2 linked regions of the Homo sapiens genome follow. The protein of the gene in region 2 interacts with the protein of the main gene of each other region in a pairwise test. Each region holds a gene or a part of one and is shown on either strand. Other genes may lie near its edges.

What was found.
Region 1: the proteins of RUNX2 (region 2) and SMAD6 interact in binary tests that used the Homo sapiens proteins (3 or more experiments, as listed by UniProt).

Annotation. Positions count from the first base shown.
Region 1 is NC_000015.10:66,775,236-66,782,235, reverse strand, and holds part of SMAD6 (mothers against decapentaplegic homolog 6), read right to left. Parts: intron 1,240-7,000; coding exon 701-1,239; 3' UTR 1-700. UniProt on the Homo sapiens protein: Transforming growth factor-beta superfamily receptors signaling occurs through the Smad family of intracellular mediators. SMAD6 is an inhibitory Smad (i-Smad) that negatively regulates signaling downstream of type I transforming growth factor-beta.
Region 2 is NC_000006.12:45,421,883-45,430,042, reverse strand, and holds part of RUNX2 (runt-related transcription factor 2), read right to left. Parts: exon of another isoform or gene 7,827-8,160; intron 7,769-7,826; exon of another isoform or gene 7,467-7,768; coding exon of another isoform or gene 7,451-7,466; coding exon 7,086-7,450; intron 1-7,085. UniProt on the Homo sapiens protein: Transcription factor involved in osteoblastic differentiation and skeletal morphogenesis. Essential for the maturation of osteoblasts and both intramembranous and endochondral ossification.

The sequences.
Region 1 (7,000 bases), on a different chromosome or scaffold from region 2:
TTCTTTTCCCCACCGCCATCCCTATCCACTGGACACCCCATAGCCATGGGCAGGAAGGAACAACAGAACTTTCTCTGGTTTACTTAAGAGTAAATGTGACTTTCCTCCCTTTTCAATTTGTTCTGTCTTTATCCAATAAAAGTAAAACTTGAAAACTGAGGTCAAGTTTCAAGGTACATGATGGGTCAGAAATCCGCTGAAGCCCTACCTGCCCCTCTTTGTAAAAAGAAGACAGTTTAAAAAAAACTATAATGCGAATACTTTATTATCGAGTGACTGGTATTAGCTTTTTGTCTGGGCATTAATATCTCAAAAACCATACACCAAACCCAGGCTTTTCCACCTAGCTCTGCTGTATCATTTTCTTTATATATATATATAAAAAGTAAGGAAGAGGAAGGAGGAAGAGAAAGAAAATATATCTGTATTGAAAGAATTATAAGCCAAAGTGCGTCTTTCTTGTTTTGTCCATATACACACATTGCACCATACATAAATAATTACATTGTAAAAATGACTCCATAATTACAAGTATAATATATATTTCCATATAATATATAAAACTTTATATTAAATCTAGGTAGATGATATCTGGGGGGTTTTGTCCGTGGGGGCTGTGTCTCTGGGCATCGGCCCCTCTCGAGGCCGGCAGGTGGCGGTGGCCGCGGCCTCCCACCCGCCCCTCCCGCCGGGGCCGCCACTATCTGGGGTTGTTGAGGAGGATCTCCAGCCAGCAGGGGCAGGAGGTGATGAACTGCCGGGAGTAGCAGGGCCCCCAGCCCTTGGCGAAGCTGATGCGGACGCTGTTGGGGTCGTAGGGGCCGTCGGCGGCGTCGGGCTCGGGCGCGTGCTGCAGGCCCGAGCGCTCGAAGTCGAACACCTTGATGGAGTAGCCGGGGGGCACCTTGCGCACGACCAGGGCGCGGCCGCCGGGCGCGTCCAGCGTCGGGGAGTTGACGAAGATGGGGTGCTCGCCGCGGTTGTAGGCCCACACGCCGTCGGGCTCCTTGCTGAGCAGGATGCCGAAGCCGATCTTGCTGCGCGTTCGCCGCACCGACTCGCTGCGCTGCTCCAGGTTGAGCTGGCCCAGGCAGAAGCCGCTGCCCTGAGGTAGGTCGTAGAAGATGCTGACGGCCTGGTCGTACACCGCATAGAGGCGGCCCACGCGCGTCCGGTGCTCCCAGTACGCCACGCTGCACCAGTGGCTCGGCTTGGTGGCGTCCGGAGACATGCTGGCGTCTGCGGGACAAGCACAGGGACCGCCGCGTTATTCTGGGTGGGGAGGTGGGAGGCACCGAGGAGCGGAGGTGGGCACTGCTGTCTGCACAGTGGGAGCTGGGTAAGGTTTCCAGCATTCAGCAGTCATGTGGGCACCGTGTGCCAGGTTGTCCTCAGGAAATATGGCGCACAACGGGACATCTCTTTCACACACACAAGCTCACACAAAGGAGAAAACAAAGGTTATGAGCCACAGAGTGCAAGCCAGAGAGCACCTGTTGTGTGCTAGATGCTGCGGACGCAGACATGAACCATGCACACCCTGCCCCTGCCTCTTCATGCTAGCAGGAGAGACAGACAACTGCCTGCACGCCCCCAAAGGAGGGGCTGACTGTGGAGCAACCATCACGGACCCGGCGTGGAGCACTGTACTTCTTACTCTTCACAGCACACAGGACTCACTTGGTCCTCACGATCACTCTGCAAGGACGCCACCTTCTCCTCGTTCTACAGAGGAGGGCACCCCGCCAGAATTTGAACCCACTAGTCCAAGTCTCAACCTGACAGAGTAGGGTTAGGCTATTGGGGGATGGCGGGGGAGGTTGAAATCACATTAGAGGACTCAAGCACAGGGAGGCGGGCTGGGGGTGGGAGGAGTTGCCCCCAGGATCCCTTCCGGCCTGGAGCAGTGGGATTCCTGTGGTGGCCTTGTTATAAATATGACTGCTTGACTGCTCCCTGACTCAGCCTTAGCCTCCTGGTACCGCCCACCTGAGTTGGCTTTCTTGGCAGGAAATGCAGGTTTGTACCAGAACTGCAGCTACTTCTGCATGGCAGAGGAGCTGAGGGTCCCTAAATGACAAAGAAAATGGCTCCTTAAGGGCTCTGGAGCTGCCCAGCAATTGAAGGTGTGTGCTGCTCCTCTCTGGGCCTCAGTTTCCCCACTGTATAGCAAAGGGGTAGCTAAGATGTTACTGAAATCCCTTGTCACTGACTCGGGCCGTCTGTGTGTCTGGAGGAGTTTAACAATTTTCTGAGACCAAAGTTCAGACCAACACAGGCCAGGGTGCTCCCTGCTCTCATGTGGCCAGCTTCTCAGATTCTGACATCTGGCCTTTCCTTTGAGCTCACAGCTCTGAGAAGCAGGCAGGCACCTATAACTGCCCAGTGAGGTGACATGATTTGCCTGCCATGCCTGCTTCCACACAGGTCTCTGGCCTGGGCCTGTGCAGAGGGAGGCGTTCTGCTGGAGGCTTGACAGAGCAAAGCAAAGCAATTCATGGCTCTTTTTCTGAGGAAAACTGATCAAAGTCCAACCAAATCCCAGAGGACAACACTTCTAACAGCTTCACCTGGGAGCCTGAGTGAGGCCAGCTCTGGACGCCTTTGCCTTGGTCTTGCCCCTGCCTAGAAGCCCCAGAAGAACAGGGTGGCAGGGCCCCTGACATCCCCTTACACACTGGGAGGCCCGCCCAGCCACCCAGCAGGAGGCTGTCTGCCTCAGGGGCCTCCTGGAGGCTGACTGCTCTGCTGTGGCTTTGGGCTGGATACAGGTTTCATGAGTGTGCCCCTTGTCCTGGGCCTGGCACTGAGGTCCCAGACACAGGTCCCCAAGTCTGCTGGGGGGTAATCCAAGTCCTCACACCAGCCCGCAGCTTGGATCATTTTGCCTCAGAGTCTCCAGTGAGGCCTCTGATGCTTCCAGCTGATGGTCAGGAGAGGAGGAAGAGGTCCTGCATCCTGCCCTCGACAGAACTGCCCCTTAGCCAGTGGGCAATAGTGACAGAGACAGCTCAAGCCCTTGGGAGGTCACTAGGCTGCAAGCATCAGGCCAGTCCCAGCAGGTGGGCAGCTGGGAACAGCCAGACTCTGAGCTCCAGCCACCCCACTCCAGTGCCCCTCTCCCCAGCCACCCCACTCCAGTGCCCCTCTCCCCAGCCATCTACCTGGCACAGGTCTGGGAGTCCCCAAGGGCCAGAAAAGCAGCACCATGCCAGCCTAGCCACGAAACTGCAGCACCCACACTGCCCACCAACCAACAAGAATTCCACGAGTGTGTCAGGCACAGCAAGGTGGGGATGCAAAGAAGCGATGCCTGGAGTATGCTGGGAGACAGGACGGGCAACGGCATCCATGAGTGCCTTCTACGAGCTGGGCCCGTTCTTCACAACAGCCTCATCTCACCTCTACTAGCAGCCCATTCCACAGGTGAGGAAACTGAGGCCCAGGGTATACACCAGTGAATGCTGGGGCCGCCTTGGTGCTAGGCCACACTCTAGAGGGGAGCTCTTCTCCACACTCCAGATAGAGTTCTGTCCTGGCTCCTTCCTAAAACCTGCACACTGAGCAAGTCCCTCTACCTCCCTAAGCCTCAGTTTCCCTATATGTAAGCATGACTGCTCTCATGGTCCATGAGCCCTAGAGGTTACTATTTACAAGCTGAGGTGTCACTATCCCCACTCTTGGAGGACTCACTTTACTGTCTCACTAAGGGAGGGGTCACTGCTGCACCTCTTCACAGACAAGGCTCTGAGACAGCTGCCCAGCCACAGAGTGACAGCTCTGCCCCACCCATGGAAAAAGGGAGAGTCTAGCTGGGGAAGGACAGGGGCACAGGGGGCAGGGGAAGCGACTTTCTCTTTCCCAGCTTCCAAAAGGTTTCTGGCTGGGAACTCTGGGAGGCTGAGGCAGGAGGCTCATTTGAGCTCAGGAGTTTAAGCCCAGCATGGGCAACAAAGCAAGACCTCATCTCTAAAAAAACTTTTAAAAATTAGGTGGGTATGATGGTGTACATCTGTAGTCCCAGCTACTTGGGAAGCTGAGACAGGAGGATTGCTTGAGCCCAAGTTTGAAGCTACCGGGAACAGTCATTGTGCTACTGCATTCCAATCTGGATGACAGAGTGAGACCTTGTCTCAAAAAAAAAAAAAAAGGAAAAGAAAAGAAAGTTTTTCAATTCAAGGACAGGTGGGACTTCCTATCCCCCTCCTCTCAGTTCCCTCCACCCCAGCCAGGCCAAACTCCTTCCATCCCCCCAATCAAAACCCATGTCCCCAGCCTAGCCCCAGCACACCTTATGGTACCCTATGACTGGGGATGAACCCATAGAGCCGCCTTCAGGCCTTGCCTGCCCCAGCCATCCAGCTAAGGGACACCCTGGGCTTGAGCCAGGCCCCATCCCCTGCGGCTTCCTTGGTTGAACAGACTGGGTTACACATCATCAGGCCTGCGCTCCTGGCCATGTCTCCCAAATTCAGGGAGACAGACTGCCACTCTGGGAAGCCCTCTCTGACCTCTCCTTCCTGGGGCACCTGAACTGCAGCCCCTCCCTTGGCCTTAACAGGTGTCTGCGCTCCTGGTCAGTGCCCCCCAGTTGGTCTACACTCTCTGACTGGTAAGGGGAGGGGTGGGTCTCCATCTATCCCAGGGCTGCATATATTCCTTGAGCTCAAGCAATCCTCCTGTCTTAGCTTCCTGAATAGCTGGGACTGCGATGTACATCATCATGCCCAGCTAATTTTCAAAAGCTTTTTTGTAGAGATGAGGTCTTGCTTTGTTGCCCAGGCTGGGCTTAAACTCCTGGGCTCAAGTGACCCTCCTGCCTCAATTACTTTTGCACCAACCTAATAAAAGGGAAGGGGACAGGAAATAAAATATGTCCCAGTGCCTAGACATTGCCCCCACCCCACACCCCACGGGGAATCCTGCCCAGCAGGTAGGCTGCTGGGCTCAGGCCCTAGGGCACTGAAGCGTGGTGGGCAAAAACTGGGGTCTCTTGTCTGATCCAGAGGGTAAGCCACCCACTCAGCCTCCCTGTCCCCACTCAACTCTCAGTCCCAGGGCGTCAGAGCTCGAGTATCCGCTGACATTATCTTATCCAGTGAGACCCAACACTTCAGGCTTCCACAAACCAACACATGTTTTTAACAGGGGAGTTGGGAATGACACAGGGCGACCACTGCTTCGTTTTTGTTTTTGTTTGAGCAATGGTCTCACTCTGTCACTCAGGCAGAAGTACTGTGGTGCAGTCATGGCTCACTGCGGCCTCGACCTCCCAGGCTCAAGCGATTCTCCCTCCTCAGCTTCCCAAGTAGTTGGCATTAGAGGCACACACCACCGGGTTTTGCCATGTTACCCAGGGTGGTCTCAAACTCCTGGGCTCAAGCAATCTGCCTGTCTTGGTTTCCCAAAGTGTTGGAATTACAGGCATGAGCCACTGCTCACCCAGACTACCACCGCTTTATTTTGCCATGTACAGACTTATTTTCTAACTTATTTTTATTTCTGTCACCATGGACCAATGAAAACTTGGTCCTGAGACTGGCCTGTTGGGACCACTAATGGAGTCTAATAATCTGGTGCCCCAAAGATAGCATCCTGGGGGGCGTCAAGGGACTTGCCCAAGTACACACAGCAGCAGGTGGCAGACCTAGGGCCAGAACTTGAGAGCCCAGAATTCTACTCTAATCCATGCCACATGGTCCAAAAGGTTTCACAGTGAGAATGACCTAAGGCTGCCACCACTGACTGGATATGTGGCCATCGATAAACTGCTAAACGTCTCCAAGCCTCAGTCTCTGTATTTGTAAAAGGACTGATTCAATAATTAAGTACCCCACTCACCACAGTCCATCTCTGAATTTTCTGGAAACTCTGGCAAAATCAAGTGGGTGCAGAAGGAAGGAGGTGCCTTGTTTACGGGCTCCAGTGTTGGCCTTACCCTTCAGAGGCCAGGGATCTTTAGTGGGGTTGGGGGTCATGGCCCAGGGTCACTGCCATGGAAGGTCTCAATAGGACTGTGGATGACAAGGCCCTTTGCAAACCGCAAAGCACTTTACAAATGTTAGGGGTTAGCCCCTAGCCTGGCACCTGCGGTGAAAGAGGTGCCCAGTGAGTGAAGGAATGGAAGAATGAAGCAACAAATGTCTGAATGTCTAGAATGAGCCCTGCTTTAGCTCCATTCTCTCACACACATACGTGCATTCAGATTTCATGCGGTGTGTCCAACACAAGCTGACGTGCTCTGCAACACTATGAGTGAGAAGGTGGGCACCCCCTAACCCATGGTCCCCACTCTGTACTTCCCACAGCTGCACAGCCCCCTCCCCCTGTGCCTCTCAGTCACAAGCCTGGGCTGCCACTCAGGTGAGGGGACAGTCTCTTACAGAAGGATCTTTTTCTCCTCGTGGTTCCTAGGCTGTGGTACTGCCATCTCCCACGGCCATCAGCCTAATTAGGAACCAGCTCTTTAATTGCAAATAAATACCAAGGAGTCAGACACGAGTGAACAACATCAAAGATGACCGAGCTCTGACCGAAACTCCCGCTCACTACCCCCTGCTCAGGGCCTGGCCTAGTTCCCAGCCAGACTCTGGGTCCTGCTGGGAGGGTTCCAGGGGGAGGAGGAGAGGAGCTGTGTCTGGGGTGGATCTGGCAGAGTGGCACTAGCCTGGGAGGAGTCCTGCCTCCTGGCCCTGATCCAGCAGGTCATCTCCCTCCTCTGGCCTCAGTCTTCCCATCCGAACAATGAGATCATTACTCTCCCCAGCTCTAAATTTCCGTGATTTAGTTAATGTTGCTAGGACTAGTAGCTCTAGTCCTAACCACCCAAACCCAGAAACCAGCTCAGATATCTATCAACAGAAAACCAATAAACAAAAACTAGGCACATCCAGCCAATGGAACACTACTCACCAAGAAAAAGGAACAAGCTACCGAAACCTGCAACAAGGTGCATGAATCTGAAGGGCATCCCATTGAGCACGAGAGGCCAGACACAGGG
Region 2 (8,160 bases):
GGCTCACTGCAACCTCCACCTCCCAGGTTCAAGTGACTCTCCTGCCTCAGCCTCCCGAGTAGCTGGGATTACAGGTGTGCACCACCACACCTGGCTAATTTTTGTATTTTTAGTAGAGAAGGGGTTTCACCATGTTGGCCAGGCTGGTCTTGAACCCCTGACCTCAGGTGATCCGCCCGCCTCAGCCTCCCAAAGTGCTGGGATTACAGGCGTGAGCCACCGAGCCCAGCCAGGTAAACATTTTTGAAATAAATGAAAGAGCTCCATAAAGAGCCCCACTTCGCAGAGACAGAAGTCTGTGGGGCTACCCACTAAAACTCTGAGAGGGCCAGTTAATGTTGAGTCAGCACCCCTTGCTAACAGCAATGTGCCCTTGCCCCCAGCTTGTTTTCTGACATTGTTTTCATCTCAGAGGAGACGGAACCATGCTGCCTCCCTTTCCCTGGAGAATATAGTTATTCTCAATATGAGAAGTCTCCTGGATCAAAAGTAAAATCCCTTGAAAATAAGACTTCCTCTCTGTACACGTCATCTCATATCTCAAGCGGCTACTGAATACAGGTAATGCTGTACTCCTGATGGAGGCAATGTGCTTTTCAATTTTTCAAATTCACCATGCCAAAAATGTGAACATTTGAAAATACTGCAATAATTGACTACATTCGCCAGGATTCATCTGAATGTTTGACATTTTGTACACTCAGCATATTGTATTTTAACACCTGCTGCGTGGCTTTCTATGTCAAAGTAAATATGGACCCAGTAAGCATATTAATAAAGGCAGGAGAAAAGTTGTACTGTTTAGAAGAGAATGAATATACCAAAATCAAGAGGCTCCACTTTTTCCCCACTTCTGCTACATATCTGCTATGACCTCACACAAAATAACTTCATCTCCAGGAACCACAGTTTTCCAATATGAATTGGAAAGTCTGCAAAATGTAGAAGATACTATATAAGTATAGAGTGTAATTATAATGATGTGCTTTTTGTAAGATGAGGAGGGTAACACAGTGTTCTGTTCCAAATCTGCTGTCTGTTAAACATAGGCTTTTACTTATAAGCATTCTTAAAGGGTTCAACTGAGTACGTACTTCCTCACTTCATGTTCTGAGATGTTCTTTGATGTTGTTGAGAGATACAGGATGACTGCTGGTGGATTTCACTCAAGTCTGGCTACATTTCCGAAAAAAAAAAAAAAAAAGCAATCTGCCCCAATATAAAGGTTTTCAAGAACTCTGGGACATTATTATTTTACTGCATATTTTTAACATAATGAATTTTTTTTTAGTTAGAAGAAATGGAAAATTGATTCAATATGGGAAAATATGAAAGAAAAGATCCCTAAGAGTGAAATACATACATCCATTTTACTGTGCTTAAGCAGTATAATAATGACCATATTCAATATTAGTGTGTTTTACGTATCACATTTTACAAAACAAATAAATAATCACAAGTTGTGTGAGCCTTCTATGAGGCTGAGAGCAAGACCTGAAAAAAAATGCTAATGCAAGGTAGTGACAATCTTTCCTGTTAAAGCTGAACTCTAGTTTAATGGCTAAATATATTGGTTTTTTTTCTGCTATTCACTCTACCAAATCAGATTGCCCGATGTTTTTCTGAGGGGGAGAAAAGGTTGGGAGTTGGGGGAAGTACTGTATTTGACTTTATATCAATCAGAAGTATAATTATATGTTTGAGAGGTTTTTTCTTTAAGTAGATCTCTGAAGCTAAAAAGTTTCCCTTGGAGATTCTCAACTGTGTTTATCTAAAAGAAAACCAAAAGAATCAAGAAATTTTTACACATTTCATCTGTACCAAAACCAAGCAATGGAAAAACATTTGAAGGGGTAAAGTGCAGTCAAAACTCGCTCTTTAACTAGTTAGGAATAAGCACAAATTAGAATTTGCTTCCATCCTACCCAATACAAAAGTACTGCTCTGCAAAGAATAATTTGTGATGATCTTAACAATTACATTTCTATGTTTTTTTAAAATATAAAATCTACAAATTCAAGAAACTCCATGAGAAAAGGAGAAGTAATTTTCTGTCCTGACATTTCAGAATAGAGAAAGACGTTCCTTTATTTAGCGCACCTCACCATAACTAGCATTTAAATCACATGATATGTGGCTTGCACAAAATAAAGTAGAAGGATATTTAACTGTAGTAATGCTATTGAAATTTTGTATGAGACTCCTTATGACTAAATCTGTGAATCACTAAAAGAAGAGGAATGGAGAATTAACTCAAACCCTTAAAACAGTTTCTCATCTTTTTATATGGAAATTAAAATTGCCTATGACATTTCCATGGACAGAAGTCTAGTCTTAACTAATCAATTACTCTTATAGGCCAAAATAATTCAGGATATTGTACTTGCGGTATAATTGAAATATAATTATTTTTCAAGATAAAATCTGATCAAATCTTTCTTTGCAATAAAAAGAGAAGTGAGACTAATTGCAAAAAGCAAAAATGTTATTCCTATCACAATTACTTAAAGATAACTTCAAATACAGTATCAAAACATTTCAACAAATACTACAGTTAATATTTTGAATTTATCCTAGAACTTAGGAAAAGCCCATTGAATTTTAGAGAAAAAACACAATATGTCATTTCATAATTTTAAAAATATATATGTCAAAGATAAATTTTGATAAAAATTATTTCAATGTAAAGCAGCAATTTGTGGGCCATGTATCATGGTGGTTTAGATCATCTAACAATAGATATTCTGGAATTTTGAAAGGATACAAACAATAATGCCAAAGAGGAAAAAATAATGAAAGATATCTACCATACCTATTTTCAAATATTTAATAGAAGTTTTCTAAAAAATTTTATAAGTATTTATTTTCCACCTGAAATTCTTTGTTCCAACTTCCTTACTTAGAAGTTTTATATATTCAGTCCCAAAATATTTAACTTTAAATAAGTTTTCTTGAATTCAAAGGCATAACACAAAAATGTGTCTGTCTTCACACAACTTGAAATCTATTGATTTACATAATTTTGCATAATAATTTATATTACGGTTAATAAGGATTTAACAGGCTTAACAACCTATTTTCCCTAGTTTAGATACAATGAGATTCAAAAAATATAAACATAAAATCTGATCATTAACTATGTAAGAAAAATACTACTCACTGGTATCAAGTATTTACCAGTTGTATATTTGTTTTCGAAGAGAGAAAAATGGCTAGTGATGCCAAAAATTTATTTTCAAACAGAAATTGCTCTGTCATTTTGAAACCCCTCCTTTTGACAAGCACTGAAAGGTATTATTAAATATACAGAATTAACTATGAGTGCTAGCTTATATATCTAAAAATGTGTTTTCTTTCTTTAACACTGCCAGAAAAACATATGATACTGATAAATATATGTAGTCCAGTGTTCTCTAACTTAAAACAGCAGAATAGACTTGAACTACTTTTAGTTTTAAAATATACATCTGGACTTAAAATTTCTGCATAGTGTTTCAGCTTGAAGCTATTTAAGGCAACTAAGTTACGAACCCTGAACACCAGGCTTCACAGTGGAAATGCTGACAGACCCCTAACTAAAAGGGTGCTACTGGATGCATGGTTGACACGCTCTCTCCACCGTTACCTGACCATCAGCTAATGAGCTGAATTTGCAAATTACTTCTTTGTCACTAGAATTATCTAGGATAGAAAGGGTCTGGGATCCTCTAATAGTATGCCCTAACTATTTTAAGGTTTCAGTGAGATACACCTGAAAATGTTAAAAATATTTATTTCCGTTTCCTTGACACCTGGGGGGACCGAACATTTCAAAACTGCAGAACTTTGTTAAAAATACAATGTTAATAAACAACTTTATATAAAGTATACCAGTTGTTTTTGCATTTTTACATGTAAAAATAAATAAATTTTATATCATCTCGAAACAAGAGTAGATGAACAACGCTAATACATTCTTAATGAAATAGATTGACAATATCGTGTTTAAACACGAGTTTAAACTGACATTTCAAAACAGTCTATTGAATTCATTTCTGATTCTCTGCGGTGTCAAGCTCAGTGTGACAGATACAAAATACGGGCTCAATAAATATTGTATTGATTTGAATATCAGACTTCACAACAAATAAGTTGTGTGTGTGTGTGTGTATGTGTGTGTTTAAATCCATTTACCTATCTGCTATTGACCTGACAACCACTATAATCTATTTTTTACATAGCTCTAAATATCATGGCCAAATTGCTGTCACCACTTTTAAAAGGGAGACTTCTTCATATTATTTCTTCATTGCAGATGTATTTGATTATATTGTAAGAGTATAGAAAGTCTAGTGCTCTCAGGCTTTTATTCCAAAAGTAGGGTAAAGAGAGGTTGTCACAATCTGGATGTTCCAAACATCCATACATTTTTTCTCAACAGAGTATTTTCTATACTGAGTAGATCTTAGCTATCACCCACTTTTTGAATTGTTTAACACAGGTATGTTGATAGAAAGACATTGACAGTCAGGTTGTAGGTTAACTCAATTCATTATTCAATTGATATGAATTAAAATAGTCAATTTAATATGGTCTTGTTACCTACGGTCTGTTTACTGCTTAAGATACAAAAATGTACTCTGTGTGATTAACAAGTTGATTAATAACAAAGAGCAAAATTTATTTTCAAAATAATTTTTAAAGGGTGGTAGTGAAAAATCTTAGATGACAGCCAAAATATCTGAGACTAGCTCAAGCTAAAGTGCAAAAAACAACCTTTCCATCCAAAATGCTCATGTTCAAATCAATTCAGCCGCATAAATGCAAGAGAACAGTTCAAGATAGACCTTAAATATGTTTAGCAGAATGGTATATGGAACACTTTAAAAATGTAAGCATCTGTTCTTATATTTTCACATATTCTGATTTGTGGCATTGTGCAGACAAGGTATCTACTTATTTGTATTTTTTGCTGTTTTCATCCAGGTTTGGGGTTTTTGGGGGCTTTTGGTTTGGGGGATTGGAGGGCGTTGGTGGAAACAAATTTCCATTCTCATATAAGACTAATTTAAAAATTCTGGGCCCTTGGACGATGGACATTGTAAAAGATATATATTGTATGGAAATTTAAATTTATACAATTCACATGTATTCTGAGCTTTTCCTATTTCAAGGAAGCAAACATTAACCTACAAAATGGGTGGTTTATAAAAGGAGAAATGTGACGGTTAAAAAAAAAAATTTCTTGAGCCAACTGCAAAATGAAACTTGCCCCAGAATGCAACATCCCCTTTCCATAACAATTCATTCTGATTTCTGTTCTGATATAAGTCCTAGCGAGATAACCAGGTCTAATTGACCTGGACTCCTCTTTCTTTCCATCCCACCCACACACGGAATCTGAATTGGTGCGTGGGGTGGGGGTGATCAACAACTGGGAACTGTCAGTGGCCCGTGGGAGTTTGGCCCCAGGGTCCCCAGCGGAGAAACTGGCATGATTCCTCCCCCAACTTTTTTTTTTAACCTCCCCCAAGGCCTTGCTTGCCCTGCTCTCCACAGACCTCAGAACCCAGGGGACCCAGGCCCACCTACTCAAGTTCAGAGGTTAGCAAGGGCCCAAAGCACCTTTCTGAGAGTCTCATCTCCACGTCTGGCTTACCACCCCTGCATCCCTGGCGTCTTGCGAGTGTGGACAGTCCTGCGAGTGTGGACAGCCTGGGAACCCGTTTCCCCATCAACCCAGTGTGCGCTGGGCCCTGGGGGCTCCGCGTCTCCCCCCTGTAGAGGGCTACCCCGGGAAATCTGGATCGGGTTATGGAGAGCCATCGGGCTACTGTGAGAGGCTCCAGATCCTAAAACCTCAACCTGCGGAGCACCTGCCTGCGACTCCCGCGGCTGCCACCCGCCCTCAAACTAACGGGCCGGGCAGGCACAAGAGTCTGCGGGGCGCGCAGAGGCCGCTCTCAAGCCTTCGAGCTCACTCCGTGCTCAGGCCACCAGCAGGAGCCTCTCACCACCTTTCAGAAGCAGGAGGGATCTTTTTTAGATTTAAGTCCTTTAAAAATAATAATAAAGCAAAAATACAAAATTTCACCTCCGTTTTCAAGTTGGGCGAACTAAAGTTGTTCCACAGGTTTCCCTCATCCCTCCCTGGCGGGGCGAGGCGCAGAGCTCGGTCCCGGCTGGAAGAAGCGGCCCGAGCTCCCGCCCCGTCCCCTGGCCCGCGCCTCCCAGCACTCGAGGGTTCAGCGCCCAGGCCCCCTGAACGCCCCCGCTTCGGGGCTTGCGGACGCCCCAGCGGCCCCGCCTTCCTCCCGGTAACGGGATCTGGCGCGGGTCAGCGAACAGAGCAAACGCCCCCGCCCTGACACCCCCTCCTCTGGAGACCCTAGGTTTGTCCAGGACCCTCCCGGGCACTGGTAGCGCAGCCCGCGCGCCTCAGTCAGCACCCCACGCCCAGCCCCGGGCACTAATGCCCGGCACCGGCACCCCACGAATCCCGGCACGGGAGCCCGGGAGGGACCAGGACCGCTGAACTCTGCGGGTCGGGGAAGGGGACGCCGAGACCTGAGGAGAGGCGTTTGGCTGTGAGGGAAGCGGGTGAGAGCGCGCGGAGCCCCAAAGAGAGGCTGCGCGGGCAGCCCGCAATGCGGCCAGGCCGGGATGTCCCGGAAGGACGCGGGAGCCCCAGGGGACAATGCCGGGGATCCTCGCCCCCGGGAAAGGGGCGGGGTGGAGCAAGTCCGCTCGCAGTGCAAGAGTGGGTACTTTGGGGATCCTGGGGGAAAGGGAGACGGCGCGAAGGAGTGAGTGAGAATCAAGGCCAGGCAGGAGGCATGAGGAGTGCTGAACGGGTCAGGGGGACTAGGGCTGAAGTCGGGGTGGCAGCGGGCACAGGTGGGAGAGGGAGGGATTTGCGCGGAGGGACTGAGCCCCGAGCCCGCCAGGGCATCCGGAGGGAGGCCCGGCCGGGGGTTTCTGGGGTTAGAGCCGCCAAGGCAGGAGGTCTTGGAGGACGTCCGGGGCCCAGCCCCGTGGGCAGGAAGACACCGGCGGGCAGGTTCCGCCGCTCCCGGCCGGGGGCGGGGGGCGGTGTAGCCTCTTACCTTGAAGGCCACGGGCAGGGTCTTGTTGCAGCGCCAGTGCGAGGGCAGCACCGAGCACAGGAAGTTGGGGCTGTCGGTGCGGACGAGTTCGGCCGGGTGGTCGGCGATGATCTCCACCATGGTGCGGTTGTCGTGGGGCGGCCGCAACCGGGGCACTGCAGCTGCCGCCGCCGCAGCCGCCGCCGCCGCCGCAGCCGCCGCCGCCGCCTCCTGCTGCTGCTGCTGCTGTTGCTGCTGCTGCTGCTGCTGTTGCTGCTGCTGCTGTTGCTGCTGCTGTTGCGCAGCCACCACCGGGCTCACGTCGCTCATTTTGCCGGGCTGCAGGCTGCTGGAGGGGGGGCTGAAGCGCCGGCTGGTGCTCGGATCTACGGGAATACGCATCACAACAGCCACAAGTTAGCGAAGTGGCCGGGGGAGGGGGAGGAGGGTGGAAATGAGGGGCAAGGAGGAAATTGGGGGGGTGAAGGCGAGACGGGGGGAAAGAGGATGGAGGTGATGGGGCTGAGGAGGTGAGAAATCAAGTTTGATGAGGCCGACTGCCGGGCGGAGTCTGATGGGCCAACAGAGTCTGGCGATGCGGCGCAGTCGGGCTGGCGGGTAGGGAGACCCGGGAGGCGCAGATCTTTGCCGGAGTCTTTGGAACACCCGGGGTGGCAGCTGCGAACGGGCGCGGGGGTGTGTTTGGCCTGGGGAGGCGGGGGACTTGAGTTTGCAGCTTGGAATGGGGTCCCTTGGGGCACCGCGTCCTGGGTGCGCTGGCGCCCCCTCCCAGTTGGAGTCCGGTGGTGAAGCGGTGTGGGTTCAGCAGTCCAGCCCCGGGGCCGGCATTGCCGCGCGCTGCCCGCCACCGCCGCGCCGCGCCGCGCGCTGCTACCCAGCTGCAGGCGGCCGCGCCTCCGCCCTCCCGCGCCGCCGCCTCCGCGGCGGCCGCCGCTCCCCCCGCGCGGGCTGCACGCTCAGATTCCTCCCGCGGCGGCTGCCAGCCCGGCTCCCCGGCTAGGCTCCTTCCTTTCCCTTCTTTTCTTCTCGCCCTCTCACAGCCACCTCTTTGCATCCACTCCCTCCTGCAATTTGC